Linked DNA regions of Homo sapiens. The protein of the gene in region 5 purifies or fractionates together with the protein of the main gene of each other region. This does not show direct contact. Each region holds a gene or a part of one and is shown on either strand. Other genes may lie near its edges. The genes, in order: NXPH1, TOR3A, DNAJC3, KLK15, GALNT7 and MAN2A2.

What was found.
Region 1: the proteins of GALNT7 (region 5) and NXPH1 purify together in Homo sapiens (co-immunoprecipitation; one large-scale study listed by IntAct). This does not show direct contact.
Region 2: the proteins of GALNT7 (region 5) and TOR3A purify together in Homo sapiens (co-immunoprecipitation; one large-scale study listed by IntAct). This does not show direct contact.
Region 3: the proteins of GALNT7 (region 5) and DNAJC3 purify together in Homo sapiens (co-immunoprecipitation; one large-scale study listed by IntAct). This does not show direct contact.
Region 4: the proteins of GALNT7 (region 5) and KLK15 purify together in Homo sapiens (co-immunoprecipitation; one large-scale study listed by IntAct). This does not show direct contact.
Region 6: the proteins of GALNT7 (region 5) and MAN2A2 purify together in Homo sapiens (affinity purification with mass spectrometry; 2 studies listed by BioGRID and IntAct, with this or other methods). This does not show direct contact.

The regions. Positions count from the first base shown.
Region 1 is NC_000007.14:8,436,609-8,440,108, reverse strand, and holds part of NXPH1 (neurexophilin-1 precursor), read right to left. Parts: intron 1-3,500. UniProt on the Homo sapiens protein: May be signaling molecules that resemble neuropeptides and that act by binding to alpha-neurexins and possibly other receptors.
Region 2 is NC_000001.11:179,088,570-179,092,069, reverse strand, and holds part of TOR3A (torsin-3A precursor), read right to left. Parts: intron 1-3,500.
Region 3 is NC_000013.11:95,680,139-95,683,638, forward strand, and holds part of DNAJC3 (dnaJ homolog subfamily C member 3 precursor), read left to right. Parts: intron 1-3,500. UniProt on the Homo sapiens protein: Involved in the unfolded protein response (UPR) during endoplasmic reticulum (ER) stress.
Region 4 is NC_000019.10:50,830,775-50,834,890, forward strand, and holds the start of KLK15 (kallikrein-15 isoform 4 preproprotein), read right to left. Parts: upstream 2,801-4,116; 5' UTR 2,753-2,800; intron 750-2,752; 5' UTR 719-749; coding exon 676-718; intron 520-675; exon of another isoform or gene 325-519; intron 1-324. UniProt on the Homo sapiens protein: Protease whose physiological substrate is not yet known.
Region 5 is NC_000004.12:173,241,811-173,245,310, reverse strand, and holds part of GALNT7 (N-acetylgalactosaminyltransferase 7), read right to left. Parts: intron 1-3,500. UniProt on the Homo sapiens protein: Glycopeptide transferase involved in O-linked oligosaccharide biosynthesis, which catalyzes the transfer of an N-acetyl-D-galactosamine residue to an already glycosylated peptide.
Region 6 is NC_000015.10:90,916,802-90,920,301, reverse strand, and holds part of MAN2A2 (alpha-mannosidase 2x), read right to left. Parts: intron 2,109-3,500; coding exon 1,914-2,108; intron 1,658-1,913; coding exon 1,547-1,657; intron 668-1,546; coding exon 515-667; 3' UTR 1-514.

The DNA.
Region 1 (3,500 bases), on a different chromosome or scaffold from region 5:
TGAATCCCGTATGTATCTAAAAGGCTGGTCTGTAGTAGAAGAGTCAGGAAATGCAGTGGAATGAGAAACTTTTAGTACTGCCTCCAAGAACTAGCCTTAATAGGGAACACTTAATAGCCACTGTCAGGAAATTTATTTTATTTTGTTTATTTTCAGTAATAAGCTCAAATTGATTAGAATTTTCAGTGTGCAGCTGGCTTAATTTTTAAAGAATGAGAAGCACACATACCTAGTCCAAAGAAAAGACATTGCTGGTCTCTCTCCCTCTGCTTTTCCCCCAGCTCCAATATACCTTAACAGCCATCTTCATAATGAGTGGATTTCACCCAAATGATCTAGCTTTTAACAGTGCAGAGGTAGTGGTCCCATAGATACATTAATTACTCTCCAAACTCTATTAAACAATTGGTGTAGAATTCACATTTTAAGGATATCCCAAATTTGAGAGAATAGATGGCTCATAATGTGGCACAAGTTTAGAAAGGATTTTTAATTCATGCCTATTTTGATTTAAAAAGCAACTTGATTATTAGCAATTTAATTCCTAGCAGAAATGGTGGGACCCCTTCTCATTAGAATAGAGCTGTGGATGGGTGACTAGTCACAGTAACTTTATACAATGCCTTGTCGGATGCATTGGATTCAATTTCTGAGTAGCTTTTTCATTAGCATGCTCAGAAAGTGCTCATTAGACTCACCTCTCTAACTGAGAGTTACCACAGGTGAGCCCCCAAACAGAATGCCACACCCTGTGGGAGATGCTTTCCTGGTGTCCTGGCCTATCCTTCTACTTGATCCAATGAGGCTGATTCAAGTTAGAACCCCCACTCTTCAGAGCAAGGAACCATATTTTTCTAGCTGATTCAATATATGCTTCAATAAAGTTAAAATGCTATCATCCTGCCATCCCATTGTATCATACTGAAAATATCCTGGAATTGGTCCAGGAATAATAAGAGAATAAAGATTGCAAAACTTTTTTATTATTTTTAATAAGCGTTGTTAACCATAGACTTCTCTCCTATTGAATTCAGGCTTTTAAATCTGCAATACATAACATTCAATAGTCTGAAATTTTATTTACCTTTATTTTTAAAAGTTAGTTTCCCACCCCCATGCATTTATGGCTGGAGCTTGTCCTGTGGTGGATTTTGAGTATTCCAGCTAACATGCTTCAGAAGGTAACTCTGTGGGCACATATCTAATTAGTTTCCCATTAAAGTACTAAAATAAGCTTCTATTTTGAACTAGGACAGACTTGTCTCTCAAAAAACACAAAAATCCTCAACCTAAAGCATTCAAAGAATCCCGGGCCCAGAAACATACTTTGCAAACATTCACCCAAATACAGGTAGGAAACTGTGGCTTGGTGTGGGGCATTGACCTACTGCAGAGTTTTCATAAGAAGTTATTCTCAAATTTGGGGGTATTTAAGGTATTCACTTTAAACAGAAGCCTAAATATTTCTTTAGGAGATAACTAGACAAGTCTTGTTTCATGGACTTAATGTGGTGATTACTCCCTGGGAAACATAACTAGGATACCATGGGCTTAAAGGTCAAGGTGCACTGAGATATCAGCTAAGAGGTAAGGCATAAACAGAGTGATGCAGGCACTTAACTAGTGGTGTGAGCTCACAAAGACAAAAATTATCCATCAAATTCTTCCCTGGCTTATGTCAGTTCAAGAGAAAATTAAAATAATGGTTTTGCCACTCTTGCCTTCTTTGAATGTAACTTAAAGCAGCTCCTGACAATCTGTATGCATCCAGTGCAGGTTCTTACAAAGGGATAAGATCTTCCAATGTGCAGCTACAAACAAATGATCAATCCAGTTAACTGTATCTGGTATTTAATGAAATAGATGAAGAAAGAAGCCTTGATCACTTCTTGATCGGTTCATTGCCCTAGAGTTTTAATCAAGGCTCTCTACTTCTTTATTTGCCTAAAACCATCCCGAAATGACTGCCCAATTCACCCTTTTAAATTCATTTCCATGGTAGAAGTCAGCTTTTTGCTCCTTCAGGAAAACAGCTCGGAATTCTGCTGGCAAATATCCATGGGATTACAATCCCTGGAAATACTGCCTTGGGTCACAGCCATCAGCTGTAGTTTTTGTGGTGCATGTGGTTTCTAGTCCCCGACACACAAAAGTACTTTAGATTGGAGAAAAAAGAACGGACTTCTAAATAGCCTTCTCTATTTTATTGTTCACATTTCGTATTGTTTTGAGTGAAATTGGAAAAATTGTCTCCTTTCTCTGTATTGCCAAAAGGCATTCAGGTAATGAAGTCTGTAACTAAACGGTAATTGAATCAGCATAATTTGCACACTGAATGGTTTTCAAATGCTCCCAGTTTACAATTAAAGGAGAATTAATGCGCTTGTTGTTGAGAACGCAGCGCATTAGAATAAATCCAGCACTGTTGTTGTAATGAGTGGAAAACGGTTTAACTGCCAACAAACACATTTAAAATTTAACACAAAGTATTGATTTCACTTCTGCTTTTGATAGATTATTTTCCAGACTATCGAAATACTTGCTCCAAGCAATAAACTGCACCATAGCCACAAGCCCTTGCCGTGTGTGTGAGCACAGCCCAAGGACGTAAGAACAGTCCTCAAGTTCAGGTCAGGCGTAAAGGTATGCAGAGGAAAAGGGCAAGCGGGTTACGATGGTCAAGGGAATCCTTAAAATTACCTCCCCCCCGCCCCCGTCGCTTTCACTTTGCATTCCCTCCCCCCATCTCTCAATAAAAAAATTCTATATTTCTTCTGGCCAAACTTTCTGCCCTCCATCCATGGTCTCTCAATGTCAGTGGGCTTACTGAACACAGGTGGGGGTGAAAATGATTGAAGATGGGAAATGGGAAGGACACTTTTTGCATTCCGCCTGCGTTCCAGCGGGTAAAGGCACAGACTTCGGTGACAGAGTCAGAAAGGCTGTTCTTTTGGATTGGCTGCCCTGGCTTTCACCTGTTTACCCCAAGGTGTCCTGTGGGCGAGGACGCTGATGCGCAGCGCCCTCTGGCGTCCGCGGCTGCTACGGTCAGGCGATAAAGGGGCAAAGACAGGCAACATTGAGGGTTCTTGGATTGAAGCTGAAATCGGTTAAATACACATTCACACACACATATATATACGTGTCACTCACATACACAGAATTCACACAACTCGCAGCTTTGCAGCCACATGCACCAGGGCAACGGCCGAGAAACGCTGTCAATTGTAGGGATGGCAATTCTTTCAGGCTTATGGGTTCTATCTAAGGCTCTTGGGATTGAGGAGCGCCAGTATCACCTCCAATCAGAGGTGTAGCCCATCAGAGAGTTCGGGCTGCTTTAGCGCACCTCACCCCTAGACAGAACATAGCGAGCCCTCGGTGCACTCCCGCAGCCCAGGATGGGCTATGGGGGTCGGGACACTGAACACAACTTCACCAGCAGGGCACAAGTGTCCCTTACCCCCATTCCCCCATTCCCACCCCAGAAGCCAGACCTG
Region 2 (3,500 bases), on a different chromosome or scaffold from region 5:
TTCACTGCCAGAATTTACCAGGGGCTGAGAGCTCCCAGCTGGAGGAGCCCGGCAGGAACAAGGGCCATCTGCAGTGCTTGCTCAAGGTCAGTTGCTCAGCCAGGCTTTCCCCGGGGAAGCTGCTCACACCACTCTTCCACTTTCTGACACTGCCCCTGCTGCAGGAAGGCCTTCCAGGCACATGATCTGTGCACACAGGAGCAGCCACAGTTGCATCAGCTGAGGCAAGACCCTGCTGCCAGGGCATTGCCCCATCCTGCATTCCCCACAGGAGGCAGGCAGCACTGTTTACCTTGGCAGGGGCTGGAAGGCAGGATCCAGGGTGCTGTGAAACCCCACAGAGTGATACTCCCTCACCCCATCCTAGGGGCATGGACTCCAGGGCCTTCTCCATTCTGTAAGGTGCTTACATGGGTAAAGAGAGGTCCCATCACATAGGGCAGGAAGCTTGGCCTGTTTATTTCTGTAACCCCAGTGCTATGTGCGTATCAGGCACTCAGCCTTTAGTAAATAAAGGGACATCTCTGCACATGTGTCTGCACCATCTCCACCCTTCTCAATCTCTCCTGTTTTGTCCCATAGCCAAAGTCCCTTTTCTTCCACCACTTTAGAGGCTTTAATCTCACCCACTGACCCATAACCTGGGGCCCCTCTCTACGCGCCGCCCCTCCCATCTTCAGGACCACCACTCTGGCACCAGCGTTCTACCTTTAGACAGACACTGTCTTTCTGGAGCACCTCAATTCCCTTCCACAGCCTCCCAGCTCATCTGCTGACCTGGATCGCTGGGAAGTCTGGAGGGGCCAGAGGGCACCTCTCTCAACCAGCCCTCATCCCCCGTCTCCAGCCCCTGCCAGGGCTGATCTCACCAGCCCTTATCCCTAAGACCCCAAAGGAAGGGGACTTCAGGCCTCACCAGAGAACTGGTTGTTACTGGTAACAAACCCCATGCTAACTGCTACATCTTTCCTAAAGAACAGACATAGACTCAGTCATCTCTTTGAGCCTTAGTGTTCTCATTTATAAAGTCAGGACTGGACCAATCTAAGCTGTCCTCTCATTAGTCAACAGGCAGCCAACAGACACTGGGGGCTGGAGCGCAAGGCCCACCACGACTCCACAAATAATTTCTATTTGTGTAGTTCTGTAATTTTTCAAAGTCCTTTCTATCCTTTTCCTGACAACAGCACAAAGGAAACAGGCTTTAATTACCCTTGTCACTTTACAGCTCCCATGAGAACAGGGCAGCAGCTCCGATCGCAGAGTTCCACGTTCCTGTCCTGCCACGTGAGCCCATTCCTGCAGCCTTCTATACTTGGCAGAAGTGGGCGAAGTAATGTTACTTTCCTGGTGCCCAGTCACCGGCCCCAATTCCCTGGCCCGGATGAAGGACAGGCTCTGAGCACCACACTCAACTCCCTGCTTCAGCTCCCACCTCCTCTCTCCTGCCACCAGGAGGAAGCCAGCAAAGCCACTGGCAACTCACTTCAAACAGCAGGTTTAGGATTTATTTCAGAATTAAACTGCTGCTCTTCCTTCGTGCAGTATGACTTGGTCACTCTAGCAGTTTGAATCAGCTGTGCTTTTCTTTCATGCCCTAGAATCCTTATTACAGTGGATGATTAACTGAAGCTCATTATAGAAATCAAGTCCAGAGACTCCAATATCAACAGTGTGTCTCCTCCCAGCCATCGCTGGACTACCTGAGAACTTGAGGTTGAGAGGCTGCTGCCCTGGACAGCCTGGGCACAGACTATGTCAGCCCAGCCCTCGGCTGGAGGGGGGAACCTCTGGCTCGTAAAGGCTGGGCACAGGCCCACACCAGAGCCACTAGAACCTAAGGCCACATCTTTTTAATGTGTCCTTTACATCCTTGTCAAAGGCTCCTGGGGGACCTCCCCACCCTGCTGTGGCATGGAGGAGTCTGGCAGGCGGCTTTCCCGCAGGCCCCCCCCCCCACCCCGCCCACAACCACATGGCCTCGGACAGTCCACCCAGGCTGGGTCACTGGGGGAAAGGACAGGCAGCTGGAGGGTGGTGCTGTCAGGTCGACGGCCAAAATACTACAAAGGCTATAACATTTGCCTGGAGACTGCAGGGTCACCGGGTCACGTTAGGCAATCACGGCCCAGGTGAGGTTTTCCAAGCTGAGAAGTGGGTGGGAGAGTCTGTGTGGCCGGCACCACCTGAAGCCGGGAGACCCCTGTCTCGGGGAGAGGGAGGAGGAAGACACTCAGCGCAAGGGAGATCCCTGTGGAAGCGAAAGGGAGGCCCGAGGCTGGGTCACCATGCTTTGCTCCGTGCCGTGGGAAGGACTGGCTTCCGCATCGGTGGTTCAGAGGGTCCCCTGGACTGCCCGACCCAGGGCTCAGGTGGAGAAACCACAGAGCACCCAGGTGACTCCTCTGTTCAGGCTCATCTGCATGTTGCAGCCCCCACCTGACTCTCTGTAACAGGAGGAGAGGTGAGCCCGGCTGCCTCCGAAGGTGGGAAATAGTACAGAACGTGGGAATAAGAACTAACTGGAAGAATGTATTGTCCTCACCTCCTGGTTCTGGGCACCCAAATCATGCAAGAGATCTCTCTCTCCTCTTAAAAATCACCCTGGGCGCCCCACTCCCCTCCCACTTCGCAATGCATTTTAAGTCTCCACAGCTTCACCTGCAGACCAGGAAGGGCTTCCCGCCACTACACAGAAATCCCAACCCAGCAACGGCTTAAACCTGTTTCACTTTTTTTTTTTTTTTTGAGATGGAGTCTCTCTCTTGTTGCCCAGGCGGGAGTGCAATGGTGTGATCTCAGCTCACTGCAACCTCTGCCTCCCAGGTTCAAGTGATTCTCCTGCCTCAGCCTCCCGAGTAGCTGGGATTACAGGCACCTGCCACCACACCCAGCTAATTTTTGTATTTTTAGTAGACAGGCCACTGCGCCTGGACCCTGTTTCACTTCCTCTTGTGAATCCACACCGAAACTAGATCTGCCCTCCACAGCTCAACCCTTCACCCCTCCACACTCCCCAAGCTAGGATGAAAATCAGCATCCCCTCACCAACTTCCCCATCCTCACAAAGTGAGCCCTGCAGCTTGGGAAACCCCCCCAGCAAGCAAGTGCTGGCCTGGGGAAGGCGAGGCCGGAGTGGAGTTGGGAAGGGAGCACTCAGTTTGACTCCTACCGAGGCTCGAGCTGTTGTGAAGCCTTCAAATTGGGTCAACAAGGGCCCAAACTTGACTTGTAACAGACACAGGACTCCCCCAGTTGGAGCCTCCGCAAAAAGATGAGGTTGGACAAGTTATTTCTAAGTTGGCTTCACGCAAAGATGTCAGTGAAAGCACAGGAACCTCAGTGCAGTGATTCAGTGACTGGGTCCCGCATGGTAGCGTCACAACTGAACTACAGGTACTCAGAGGAAGCATGGGTTTCTCAACCCGTATACCCTGGATTTTAAGCCAGTGATGACTTCTCATAATCGGAGAAGAAACAGACTTCCAAGGCTGAAGGAA
Region 3 (3,500 bases), on a different chromosome or scaffold from region 5:
TAAGGAAGTTATTTCATTTCTTTGCTAATGGTTTGTCCTCTTGGTGACTTGAGTAGCAACACAGCCTGGGAACGAAACCTTTTTTCTCTTATCATAGTTTTATCTCTTTTTCTTCCTTAACATGCTATCTGGACCCAATTTTTCTTTATTTCATTGAGCTGATTAAACCATATATTTTGGCCATGGGGAAAAGAATAGTTGAAAATATATAGTTGAAAATCTATACGTATAAAATATTGTGATAAGTTTTATTTGAACCATGATAAGTTTTATTTGAACCTAACCTATTAAAGGTATGTTTTGTCTTTTCTAGGATTTTCTTGACATTATCTAAATAGGGAAAGAATAAAGTAGCAAAAATGAGTGACTTTAAGTAATTTAAATAAATTAAGTATCATAAAAGGTGGTCACATATTTTCTAGAATTATTTTAAATTCTTTAATAAGATAGGCTGTAGTTAGCAGTAGTATCAAAGTTCCAGTTCTCTTGACATAGTTAGTATTTGCTGAGAAACTGCCTGGAAATGCAGTGGTTTTCATTCTGTGAGGTAGGGGAAGTTGTTCTGGGAGGGGATGCACTGTAGTAATTAGGTTTTATTTTCCCATATGAAGTTAATTAATTGTTGTTAAGTTTAATTTCTACTGCTGTGGTCTCTTTTGATTAGTGTCCTGCAGTTAATCTTTGTTTATATGGAAGTATCATGGGAACCCATTCACCTGCTCTTCAGAACGCAAACATTTCAACCATAGATTTATTTTTCTTTCCATATCTTTAGAAAGCTACTTAAAAAAATTAAATCTGATGAGTTTGTATCATTTGGAGTTCTGGAATATGGAGAAGACTCATTTAATCAGTCAGCAAAGGCTTTTACTAACTATATTGCTCTTTGGTGAGGTATATATACGTAGCATAGAACTCATGGCTTTTGCTTTTGAGTTTACAGACCACTTAGGGTTTAAGACATGCATTTGTGAAGCATTCACGTCCTCTTTTTCTCCTTTCCCGCTTTAGACTGAGTGGTCCATTATTGTAGTTAGTGTACTGCAAATGCCCATTTATTTTCTGGCCCCTGTAATCTTCTGTTTTACTCACCTGCCAAAACCCAACACTGGTTAAATTCAACTTGGCCAACTGTTTTTATACCTTATAGGTAAACACGGACGGAGGAAAATGGAGACAACTTTGCTGATTAGTCTCATTTATCTTTATTTTTATTTTCAATTTTTTTTCGAGACAAGGTCTTGCCCTGTCACCCAGGCTGGAGTGCAGTGGCATGATCCTAGCTCAATGTAGGCTTGACCTCCTGGGCTCAAGCAGTCCTCCCATCTCAGCCTCCTGAATAGCTGGGACCACAGGTATGCACCACTGCATCCCCTACTAAGTTTTTAAAATTTTTTGTAGGGACAGGGTCTTCTATGTTGCCCAGGCTGGTCTTGAACTCCTGGGCTCAAGCAATCCTCATCCCTTGGCCTCCCAAAGTGTTGAGATTACAGGCACGAGCCAATGCACCTGGCCCTGATTAGTCTCATTTTAAAGAAACAATCTCAGTCGCAAATGCACATTAAATACTGCTAACACTCCCACAATTCTTTACTATGTCTATTCTTGAAAATCAATATTTCAAACATTTTCCTCCTTTCTGAAGCCTCTAATTTAAACTCTCCTTTCCTCTCTCCCCTACCTCATTCTTTTAGACCTTGTCTTTACTGAGAAAATGAAAGCCATCACAAGGCAAGTTCTTCTTTCTACCTCAAAATTCACTAGCTTATCTACATTTGTACCTATTCTGCTACTTTTTCTCATATTGAAATACATTAAATGTCTCTATTCCCAGATAAATCTAATCTGTGTACTTACACCCTGGATTCCATTTCCTCTCACCTTCTGAAAATGTTGCTCCTACAGTTGTATCTTTGTGCTGCTATAACAAAATACCACAGACTGAGTAATTTATAAAAAAAATTTCAACCTGAATTTTGGAGAGAACATTCAGATAATAGTAGATGCTGAACTTCCTGTACTATCTTTCTTTGGCTAGATTCCACTGTCTTCTGTGTTTCTGCTACAAGACTTCTTTTAGACTCTACCCCACCTTGCTAGAGTCTTGGCTTAGCCTTCTGTTCTTTTTTAGAGAAGAAACTTAGGGCTTTCCTCATTCCTCATATTCTAAGTGCTCCAACCTGAATAACCATCTCTCTCTCTGGGATTGCTCTCTGGTCTGGGTCTGCCACCGCCTTTGCTTGAACTTTAGTATCTTTGACTATGAGTTCTTGCCTCCTTTAGTCTGGTTCTTCCAGTCTTGATTGTAACTCACGTCATACCTTTAACCCCCCACCTTTAAGTTTAAAAAAATCCTTATTTTCTGCTCTCCAAAATATAAGATATTCTAATACTAATTTCAGTGAAAGACATAGTTGGCTACTCTACCTTTTTCCCTGCCCTTGCTGCTTATTTTGCTGACTTATGATCACTGCTTGTCTAAGGAGAAACCTATTGTCTAATGCTGATTAGGAAATGGCATGATGTTTGGTTGTCTTACCTCTCTGAAAATAATGTTTACAGACCATGTGGCAAAGGAATAAAAATTACCTGTGGCTCAAAAGAGAGTGGATTGCAAAAACAGCCAATAATTCGCAAATAATTTGATTTTTCAGATGTGTCTTTATGAATCATTGATCATATGTTTGACTTGATAATTGTTATGTATTTTAGATTTTATTCTGATGAATTATAATACGTTTAAGTAAAAAGGCAAATAGTTAAATTCATTCAACAAATATTGCATACCCACTATGTGCGGGATACTGAATTAGGTGATACAAAGAAGAAAAGACAGCTCCTCCTCTCAAACTTGCTTTTGATAAGTTTTGTGGAGTTGGGACTTTGAGAAGCAGGCAAATTGTGAAAAGCAATATATAGAGAGAGTGATATTGCAAAGTGAAGTCATGTACTTCTGAGTGTGGAAATGCAAAATATAGGAAGATTGAAGGAGCTTTTTTTCCCTCTCTCAAAACAATACAGTGTGAGGGAAGGTTTCACAAAGGAGCCAGCATTTGAGGGCAGAATCTTTTTTTTTGTTTAACTTTATTTTATTTTAGATTCAAGATATACATGTGCAGGTTACATGGGTATATTGTGTAATGGTGGGGTGGTATGATTTAGATCTGTGCCCCACCCAAATCTCATGTTCAGCTGTAATCCCCAGTGTTGGATCTGGGGCCTGGTGGGAAGTGATTGGATCATGGGGGTGGTTTCTAATGGTTTAGCACCATCCCCCAGAGCTGTTATTGTGATAGAATTCTCACAAGATCTGGTTGTTTAAAAGTGTGCAGTATCTCCCCCCTCTCTGTCTTCCTCCGGCTCTGGCCATGTGAAGATGTGCCTACTTCTCCTTTACCTTTTGCCATGATTGTAAATTTCCTGAGGCCTCCCCAGCCATGCTTCATGTACAACCTACAGAACCGTCAGCCAATTAAACCTCTTTTCTTTATAAATTACCC
Region 4 (4,116 bases), on a different chromosome or scaffold from region 5:
GTTGTGGCCGTCCCTCTGAGCCACAGCCCCTTCCCTTGTCAAATGAGGTCGGTGGTGCCCACCACACATAGACGTTGTATGTAAGCTCTAAGCACCGTGCCTGGCTTGCACACCTGAAGGGGCACTACCTGGGCCAGGCTTATGCTTCTGCCTCACACACAACCACATTTAATCCCCTCAAAGACCCTGTAAGAGACAGGGAGTGGCAGGTGTGGGACTCAAGCTGGAGTCTGTCTGTGCTGTTGGCCTCTCAGCACTTGTCTAATGCTTGCTATGTATATTACCTCTGTTATGCTATTGAGACCTCACTGTTATTGTCTCAAGTGGGTGCTGTCTTATAGAGAAGGCATTCGAAGCCCAGAGAGGTGAAGCAGTTCCCTCAAGGACACACAGCAAGGAAGCGGTTGCCCCAGGACTCAGCTCAGGTTTGTGTAACCCCAGGACCGTGTTCCTTGTCGTGGGCAGCGAGAGGCCCCAGGCAACATAGCGACTCCAGAGCAGCAGCACCAGCACCTGACGGTAAGGGCTTAGGGACATTGGCACAGGTGGAGGGTGAAGGAAGGATCTTTAGTGGTCTCTGGGTGAGGTAGGGGCTGGCAGATCACTGGGCCCAGACATGCTTGGGAAGGGGGCACCTGCTCCCACAGACCTGGCCCCCTCCTGGGGCCACCTCACCTGTGGATGCCAGCAGGAAGGAGAGAGTGAGGAGAAGCCACATTGTGGAGGAGGGACCAGGGTTCGGCTGCAGTCTGGGGAGGGAGTGAGAGAATCCAGGTGAGGCAGGACCCTTCTGCCTCCACCAGGATCCCTCCAGACACAGACTTATCCCATCCACTGTTAATAAATTTCTTCTGACCACCGGTATCCCCTTCCCCCAACCCCACTCTGCGCTTCCTTCTGGGTCCCCCATCTCTGGAAGGTTTACTCTTCCTCTAGGCACTCGGACAGACCCTGCCCCACCTCCTCCACCTGTCAGCCTCCAGCACCATGCTACCAGCCCCTGGATCTCTCTCCATCATCACCAAGGACCCCTGTCCCAACTTTTTTTTTTTTTTGAGACGGAGTCTCACTCTGTCACCCAGGCTGGAGTGCAGTGGCACAATGTCGGCTCACTGCAAGCTCCACCTCCCAGGTTCACACCATTCTCCCGCCTCAGCCTCCCGAGTAGCTGGGACTACAGGCGCCCACCACCGTGCCCGGCTAATTTTTTGGAAATTTTTTTTTTTTAAGTAGAGACAGGGTTTCACCGTGTTAGCCAGGATGGCCTCAATCTCTTGACTTCATGATCCACCCACCTCGGCCTCCCAAAGTGCTGGGATTACAGGCATGAGCCACCGCGCCTGGTCTATCTCAACCCTCTTATCTGGCCTTTTGGGTCCCCCTCCAGTCCAGTCCCCTCCACCAGCTTGCCCTCCAGCCATGACCCCAAAGGGTCTTTCTACATCTGGAGCTGGCTGTGCCCCTCCCCTGCTCACCACCCTCCATGGATCCTTGGCACCACCAGGATAAAGTCCAGCTCTTCAAATTCACTTTCTTTCTTTTTTTTTCTTTTTTTTTTTTTTTTTTGAGACGGAGTCTGGCTCTGTAGCCCAGGTTGGAGTGGAGTGGCGTGATCTCCGCTCACTGTAACCTCTGCCTTCTGGGTTCAAGAGATTCTCCTGCCTCAGCCTCCCAAGCAATTGGGATTACAGGTGTGTGCCACCACGCCCAGCTAATTTTTGTAATTTTAGTAGAGACGGAGTTTCACCATGTTGGCCAGGCTGGTCTTGAACTCCTGACCTCTAGTGATCCACCCGCCTCAGCCTCCCAAAGTGCTGGGATTACAGGCATGAGTTGCCTGGCTCCAGCCTCACTTTCAAGGACAAAAGTGGCTTCTTCCCTTCCAGCCCCTCTCCCTGGGTCTCCCATGACCTTGTCCTAGACGCAGCCAGTGCTGCCATTTTCCCTCCTGCCATTTCATGCTTAGGCTATTCCTCCCACCGCATATCCAACGCCATTCCCTTCCAGCCCCGCTTCCTCCTTGAGGCCTTCTCTGACCTCCCCTGACCCTCAGTGGTGTCTGCCTCCCCTACGAGACTGGCAGCTCCCCGAGGAGCTGGTCTGACTCCACTCTGGGTCTCCAGTACTGCAGGGCCCGACCCACGGGAGGCCTCAGGAAGCTTTGAGGGTGAATTGAAATCCTTCTTCCCCATATCTTCCAAATTCATCTTTGTCCTCTGACACTCTGCCCCCACCTCTTCTGGGAGGCCCCAACACCTAACAGGTGTCTCCCCTGAATCCCACAGCACCCATTCTGTCTCCATTACAGCGCAGATGCCCCATACTTGCTGAGGTCTGGCCTGTTCTTTTCTCCATCTGGGGGTCTTGAAGATGGGGCTCAGGTCAGGTTCTTTCTGTGACCTCAGCACTGCCCCACCTGGGGCCTGGTACACAGGAGGCCTCCGGGAGGTTGTGCTGAACTGACTTGAACCCGTGATCACTCCTGACCACGTTCTTGGCTCTGATACAAGTACTTCAGGGACGTCCTCCTGATCCACTCCATCCCCCTCCCTCCCCACCACTGCAGCTCCTTCTGGCCATTCCAGGACATTTTCTTGGTTCAGGTTCAATTTGGGGCATTGGTAAAGGACACGTGGATCTACCCATGCCCTTGACACTCAGTTCTCCAAGCGTGGTCAACGTTTCCCCTTGAAACCAGGGCACAGTGAATCTCCCCTTTGCCCCTCCCTCAGTCTTGTCTCAAAGCTCTCACCTCCTCCAGATCCTCCAGCAGCATCTAGGGCAGCTTGGGTGCCAGAAGGGAGCAGGTACCAGGATGCCTGAATTTATAAGCTCCCAGTCCCAGCTGGGTCTGGGGGTGTGGTGGTGTAGGGTGGGGTGGGAGGTGGCTGAGAGTCAGGTTTACAGGCAGAGACGCCTTGGTTGCTGGTGGGGTGGGAGACTTGGCCTAATGAGCATTTATTAGGTTGAAGCTGTTGTCTGAGTCCACAAAGAGGAATTCTCCACCAGGAGCAGTTCCTCAAGGGGGAGGGGACAGGAGGACAAAAACAGAAATTAGGAGGAGATCAAAAGACAGAGTCTGGAATTTGGGGTCTGGAGTGTGGAAACTGGATCCTAAAGTCCCTGTTCTTGGGCTTGGGGCAGAGTTCTGGATCCCGGGTTCTGGATCCGGATCTGGTTCTGGATCTGGGTCTTGGATTCTGGATTTGAGGATCTTGAGTTGGAGATTAATGACCTGCAGTCTGGAATATGGATTTCAAAGTCTGAGTTCTTGGGCTGGGGGTCTGGAATCTGGATCCTGGAGTCGGGCCTTTGAGTGACAGATCGTGAACCTTGATTCTGGATCCCGGGGCATTCGAATCTAGAACCCACAATAGGAGCCTGGAATCTGGTGTTTGGAATCTGGCAATCGAGGCTGGAAACCTTTGCACCTGCTATGAGAAGCCTGGGGCCTAGACTACAAATGGTAGATTTGGGATTTTGAATTGTGGGGTCTGGATTCTTTTTTTTTTTTTTTCTGAGATGAAGTTTCGCTCTTGTCACCCAGGCTGGAGTGCAATAGCGTGATCTCAGATCACTGCAACCTCCACTTCCTGGGCTCAATAGATTCTCCTGCCTCAGCCTCCTGAGTAGCTGGGATTACAGGCGACCACCACCACGCCCAGCTAATTTTTATATTTTTAGTAGAGACAGGGTTTCACCATGTTGGCCAGGCTGGTGTCGAACTCCTCATCTCAAGTGATCCACCTGACTCAGCCTCCTAAAGTGCTGGGATTACAGGCGTGAGACACCATGCCAGGCTTGGGGTCTGGATTCTACAGGGTGGATCTAGCCTCTGAGCTTTCAGGAGTAGACTTTGGAACATACAGTCTGGAGTTTCAAATCTGTTTTTGCATTGAAAACCTGGACTGTGGCTGGGCCCAGTGACTCATGCCTTTGGGAGGCTGAGGTAGGAGGATTGCTGGAACTGAAGGGTTTGAGACCAGCCTGGGCAACACAGCAATACCTCATCTCTATGAAAAATCTAAATAAATAAATAAATAAGTAAATAAATTTTTAAAAGGCTGAATTGAGAGACAGGGACCTGGCTTTCACGATTCTGAGATTGCTAGAATC
Region 5 (3,500 bases):
ATTTTTCAAATTCAACTATTTCAATGACAGAAATTTTAATGGATTAAAAATTCATGTTTATTTTCCTCCAAAAGTTGTTTTTTTTTTTTTTTTTTGACTTAATGGTTCTTTGTCTAATCTTAAACTGTTAGTGTTCTTCAGGGTTCTGTTATTAGTCTATTTGTCATTCCATCCTCATTCTAGGTTATTTCATTCTCTTCCAAGCTCAGTGACCAGTTTTATAGTGATCACTGCTACATCCATTTCCCCAGCCCGTATCACCTTTCTGAACTCAAAACCTTACAGGCAACTTCTTCCTGAACATTTCTATTCATATCTCTCTAGTACCTAAATTTAACATACCAAAAACTGAACCTATCATTCACCTCACATCACAAGCCTGTTTCACTGACTGTCTCCTTACTTCAGGGACTGAAACCACCATTCACTCAACTGATGAAATCCAAAACCTGCAATCACCCTCAACTTTTTATTCTCTTTTATCTACCCTTCTGACATCCAATTAATCATAAATTCCTGTCAATTCTATCACCTGTGTAGAGCCTCCATCTGGCCACTTCTTTCTATCATCCTCACTGCTACTGCCTTAATTCAGGCACCCTCACCTCTGAACAAGATTACAATAGGAATAATAGTGATGATGGTAAACACTGTGTCCTAAGTGCTTCACATACATTAACTTATTCAATCCCATGAGTTAGGTACTATGATTGCCATGTCTATTTTATAGATGGGACATCTGACAGGGAAGTTACCTAAGATTAGAATCAGTATGTAGTAGAGTCAAAATTTCAATCCAAATAGTCTGGCTCAGGATCTACACTCTTAACTACTATGACCTAGTGCTTCTCGCCCTGACACATACTTCCTACACAGCAGCCACAGGGACTTTTCTAAAATTCATACATCAACATGTTTCTTTCCCTGCTTACCATATTCCAGCAGTAGCCCACTGCCCTCTGGAGAATACACACTCCTCAAGGGGGTTGGCAAGGCTTTTCCAGTTCTAGACTGCATTTATGAAATGTCTTCAGCACTATCCATGAGAGAGGGGTCAGCAAACTTTTTCTTCAAAGGGTTAAGTAGTAAACATGTTTGGCTTTGCAGACCACAGGGTCCCTGTGGTAATTATTCAAGTCTGCCTCTGCAGTGTGGGAGCAGCCATAGACAATATGTAAATGAATGGGTATGGCTGTGTTCCAGTAACCATGTATTTACAGAGACAGGTGTTGGGCTGGATTTGGTTCCCTAGTCCCTGCACTAGACTGTAAGTTCTGTGAAAGTGCAGAGGCTATGTCCATCGTACGCACCACTGCATGCCCAGTGCTTATCCTGGCACATAATTCCTCAATAAATACTCACTGAATAAATGAATGAATCCTAAAATTTCTGCTTTGGTGGTAAGATAGACTCCGAAAAGAAAAGGGGAGATAAAGAATGGAAAATACAAAATGGGAGAGCAGGGCTTAAATCAGATAGACCCGTACTGGCAATACCTTATGAATTCACCAAGAACATAACTCTATATTCCCTACACGGCACTGTACTTTTAATAATGCCATATAATAGCACCAGAAAAATTGAATTTGCTCACTTCTCAGAGGCTGCATGTCATTAAATCGGAAGGCAAAACCAAATACAAGAATTGTCTGTCTAACCCCAAGTCAACTAAGAATAATCACATCAAATCTTAATTATATGATTCAAACAACGGCTATAAAGTGGTGTAATACTTTACTCCCCTGAGGAGGAAAGCTACATACTCCTCCTTTCTGAGAGTGAATGAGAATCAGTAGATGCCTCTGTGACTCACTGGTACAATGATACCTTCGTAAACACCAGCTGATCCACTCTACAGCCCAAACTAATGAATCACTGTTAAACAGAAATGGAAAAGAGGATGAGTAGATAATTTTCCAAGATCAGTATGTTCATAAAGGTGGAAATGGACTGAAAAATATAACCACTTATCACTGGATGGTAATATGGATTACCAGAAGTAAGGTCAGGCTAGTAACCATCCACCTTACAACTTACAAAGTGCCCCTTCTTACCCCCAAATCCTGCTTATATGTAATATTTTTCCAAGATGGCCATGCCTTGGTAGAGATAATATAAATCCAAAGGGATTTAGAAAAATGGTCTTTAGAGCAAATGACAGTAACATAGGCTTGTTTGAATTTGAAATCACAGGTGAAGCCTAGAAAACTAAGCTTTTAATGATGAGCTTATGCAGTCACATGATCTCTTGAGAAATGATGACTTAGCTTTAGGAAAGGGCCACTGCTTGAACAACATGCACACTACTTGGTTATCATGCTTCATGAGCCACAGAATTTAAAGGTATAACAAGCCAAACTTCATTCTGTGATTTTAACTCTCTTGATCAAAAACACCTTTCTTCAGAAAAATCCTATCAGCATCCTTTCTCTGGCTGCAGTTACCTAAAAGGAGCAGAAGGAATGGACACAGAAAGCAGAGAGGGAGGTGGTAAAAATAAATAAGCTCCAGAAATTCAGAGGGAACAAGGCGTGCCAGTAGGCTGGGGCTCCCCAGACTCTCACCAACATGTGGCAGGATGTGGGTGGGAATGTGGAGTGCACCAGCCTCAGTACCCTTCTTTCTCTCTGCTTAGTTACAGCTGGATGGACTAGACATTTCCGGCTGACTGAAGAGCTCCATGTCTTGCTCCTTTCAGAGCACTGAGCGATGACTGCATTGGGAGCTGCAGCCCTGCTGGGCATGGTCAAGGAATTTGTGCTTAATCAGGGCTTAAAATGGATAAGCCCAAGATTAAACAGAGACCTTACCAGTCCTTAAATATCTAGAATGTCATCCATACAGGAAAGGACCCATTTCCAAGTATATTTTAATATCCCTAAACTAGAAAGAGATTGAAGGCCACTTTCCAATGGCAATGCCTCTGTTAGCAACTAGGGCAGAACTGAAAATGGATGAAGCATGCTTTCAGGTAACTATGGAAATATAAAAATTCTATATAAGCTCTAGGTGTGGCTTAAAGTATGATATTCTGGTAAGAATTATCTGCTCAAAGAAATAGACCCGCTTAGAGGAATTGCTATTCTTCTTTATCTTTTTTTTCCCTTTCTTTAAGTATCAGGCCAAGATATAAACCAAAGGGTAACAAAATAGAGAAAATAGTAGAGTTGACATCATAATGCTCCACTAAAAGAAATCAAGGTCAGCAACTCTAATACTGTATATTAAACTTAAGCAGGGTAACCAGGCTGAGTACTACACAGTAAACCAGTTCGTCCCAAAGTTACTTTACAGATTGAAACACTGGGACTCTTGACAATGGAGTGATGCCTATTATGGAATAGCTAATAGTTATATCTTTTATTTTTATCTCAAGACTTCTAATATACTATGGTAACTGCAGTTACAAGTGGGCAAGTCTGTGAAGCAGTTTTAGCCACCTACTGGGAAGATTTTATCGGGTTTCTAAGGGGGCATTTTGAGCCAATTAAATGCCACCC
Region 6 (3,500 bases), on a different chromosome or scaffold from region 5:
TGCTAACTCTGGGTCCCCACCCCTGTCCTCCCAGAGTCACTCTGATCCTGCTCATCACACCAGGACATGGAGTCTCTACATAACCACAGGATTCCCCTAGAGCCTGCTGTTGCCACAGTGACCCTGATGCTGGGCTGTTACCCACTTAGCCTCCCTTACCTCTTCTGTCTGCTTCCACCACTTCTATATCCCTGTTTGGAAAAAGGATGGGTGCCTGAGCCTGTGCCCAGTTGGGTGTCCACTCACAACCCAAAGCAGAGCCTGGCACTGCCCACTCTGACCAAGGGCCTTCTCTCCCTGATCTCACTGGCGTCTGCCCTATTTACCCATCACTGGGTTTGTGGGTTGCGCCGAAAACACAGCAGCAGCAATAAACAGAAAATGAGGGCAGAGCCCAGTGTGTCACAGTTCTGGGAGGCAGATCGGGATGGGATACCCGTGTGGCTTGTCCAATGATCTTCATGTTAAGAGGCAGTCTCTGTGAATGAACTTTCTCTTCAGGCCACAAGAAGCCCTAACCCAAGCGGAGGCGAAAGGTAGCAATCTCCATGGGCTCCAAATAGACGTCAGTGCTGTTGGACGGGGAGGCCAGAGGGTACAGTAACGTCAAGGAGGTTGGCTGAAGGAATACCACATCCAGGCCATGGAAAAGGCTGCCCAGGGCTACCTGTGGAGAGCAGAGAAGGGGCAGGGTTGTGCTAGGTGCCGAGACACTAAAGAATGTGGCTGTTCATCTACAATTTGGTACCTCTTTAAGAATCTCAGCCAGGGGCAGTGGCTCACACCTGTAATCCCAGCACTTTGGGAGGCCAAGGCGGGTGGATCACCTGAGGTCAGGAGTTCGAGACCAGCCTGGCCAACATGGCGAAACCCCGTCTCTACTAACAATATAAAAATTAGCTGGGCGTGGGGGCAGGCGCCTGTAATCCCAGCTACTCGGGAGGCTGAGGCAGGAGGATCACTTGAACCAGGAGGCGGGGGTTGCAGTGAGCTGCGATCACGCCACTGCACTCCAGTTCCGGCTGGCCCCTCTCAGCAACACCATGCCTTCTTACACATGAGTGTGCATCCAGTCTCACGGGCTTGCTGAGATTTGCTCAACCCTAAAGCCTGCCTACAGATCTCTGGGTAAGAACCGTTCCACTGAGCTGTGAGCTCTGTGAAAACAGTGACCATGTCTTGGTTCACTTCTGAAACACTGGAGCCCAGCAGAGGACCTGGCACCCGGGGACATTTATCAGTGCCGGCTGATATGAGCTTACAAAGTAACAACAGGATGGGTTCTGGTTTTCTATTTCTGGTGTTTTCCACTTTGCTTGATAGAGGTCCCTGCTCAGGGAACAAAAGTTCTCAAGCGATCTACCTTGTCTGGAACTCCCCCTGCCAGGCCTCCGGAGCTCTGAAAACATGTCTACAGCTTCCCCCCTTCTCTCCAGAAAGCCCTGGAGTGACACTTTCTTCTCCCAGCCTGTCACCGAATCTCAGCCCAGTCTTACCAAGCTCATGCCTGCCATTCCTAGGTGCTCTGTTTCCCCACCCTACTCACCTTGCCTTGGCTTGTGGTGCAGTTGAAGCCCAAGTTCTTGGCCTCCAGGCCGCAGTCAAAACCCTTGCGGTGTAAGATGAGTGCGGTCTCCGCCGAGGGTAGGGTGTCCTCCTGGATGACAGACAGTGCCCAGGGAAGTGGGCGCAGGGCTTTCAGAGATCGGAGATGCAGCAGCGCCTCTGCCCAGAGGCAGTGCTGGCACAGGGAGGCGTGTGGGTAAGGAAAGGCCAAAACCTGGTCCTGGAGGTTTGGAGCCGAATACCTGCTAAGGGGTCTGGACCTCATCCTGGAGGCTAAGGAAGGAGCTGAGCAGGGAGGGACACCATCAGAACTCTGCTCTCAGCATGTCACGCTGAGGGACACTCACCTCAGCCTGGAGCGTACGTAGGTTGAGCAGGTGGAAGTCACAGGGCAGTGAGGAAGCCAGAGGATGAAATGAGCGCAGACCAGGGCCTGGGAGCTGCATCCTGGCTACAGGCAGAGCGAGCGCCGGGGCGTTCAGGTACATGGAGGTCAGGTGGCTGAGGAGGGATGGGTAGCTGGTAGAGTGGCTATCTTGGACCTGCAAAATTGACCCGAGATATTGGTGAGGGACCAAAGCCAGGCTGAGGGGAGAGGACGAGGCAGGATAAAAGCACACCCAGGTCAGTTGTTTTGGAAAGACCTTTCCTGGTGTGCCTGGACTCAAGGGCACGCCTGGCTCCAGGCGAGGTTCCGCTAACCCTTCAAGTGTGGACATTTGCCGTCTCCCCTAACGCAGAGGGCTACTTCACTAAGCTGTTTCTTCTCTACTTTTTAGTTCCTTGCTCACATAACACTATCATGAGCAACCCACTCCCATCAGCCATGTCTCCCCTCACACATGGATCCACAGTGCAGGGAGGATGGCAGCCAGGCAGACGCAGGCCTCACCATGGAGCACGGACCTCCAATCCAGAGTGCTCTGGGTAATCTGCGGCTTCACGAGCGATGCCACATCCACAGTGCCAGCCTGGCTCTCAGGCCCAGCGCGGCCGGGGCTCTGCCAGCAGGGCTACTCCTTAGCAGCTCACCTGGACGTCAGACTCACAGGCCTGGGCTGAATATTCTGGACTTCTGTCCCTGGCATCCCCCTTCTTCCAAGCGCCCAGCATCTCTCACTTCCCTCTGCATTCCCAGGTAATGCTAAACCCTCTTCCGTCGCACCTGGGCAGTGTCCTCATAGCCACCGGCAACTTCTCCAGCCTCTGGCCTAGTTCAAGCAGCCAGCATGTCCTGCCTGAACAGCCTCCCGCTGTCACCCTCCTCCAGTCTCCCTTCCCACAGATCCAACCTGCTCCGTACTGTCAGCGTGACATGCTGAGACCAGAGTTCTGACGGTGTCCCTCCTTGCTCAGCTCTTTCCTTAGCCTGGACCTTTCCTAGCCAGGATAAAGTCCAGATCCCTTAGCAGGCACTCAAGGTGCTCTGCCGTCTGCCCTGATCTCCCCCTAGCACTCTAGCCCAGCACCAGCCAAGAGGGCATTCTGCAAGGATGGAAATATCCGACACCACATGGTCTAATACGGCAGCCACTTAGCCACTTGAGTACTTGAAGTGTGGTCAGTAGGAATAAGAAAGCAAATTTTTTACTTGATTTAGTTGTAATTTAAATAGCCATATAGGGCTACTGGCCACCGTACTGGATAGCATAGCTCCAGCATAACTAAGGAACTCACTGCTATTCCCCAGCCTGTTGTCTTTCCTGCCTCCTATCCTGTGCCCTGGTTCATATCTTCAAATCACACCCCATTCATCAAAGCCACACCTGGGTGACACCTCCTTGACCTCGATCTCCTTAGCCCACATTATTACCTTGCTCCTCAGGATCAGTGAGACAAAGCCCTTTCTACCTTGCATTTTTACACACATGGCTTCTCTGCCACCCCTACTCACGAGTAAACTCCTGGGAGAGTCAGCACTGTCTGCACTTATG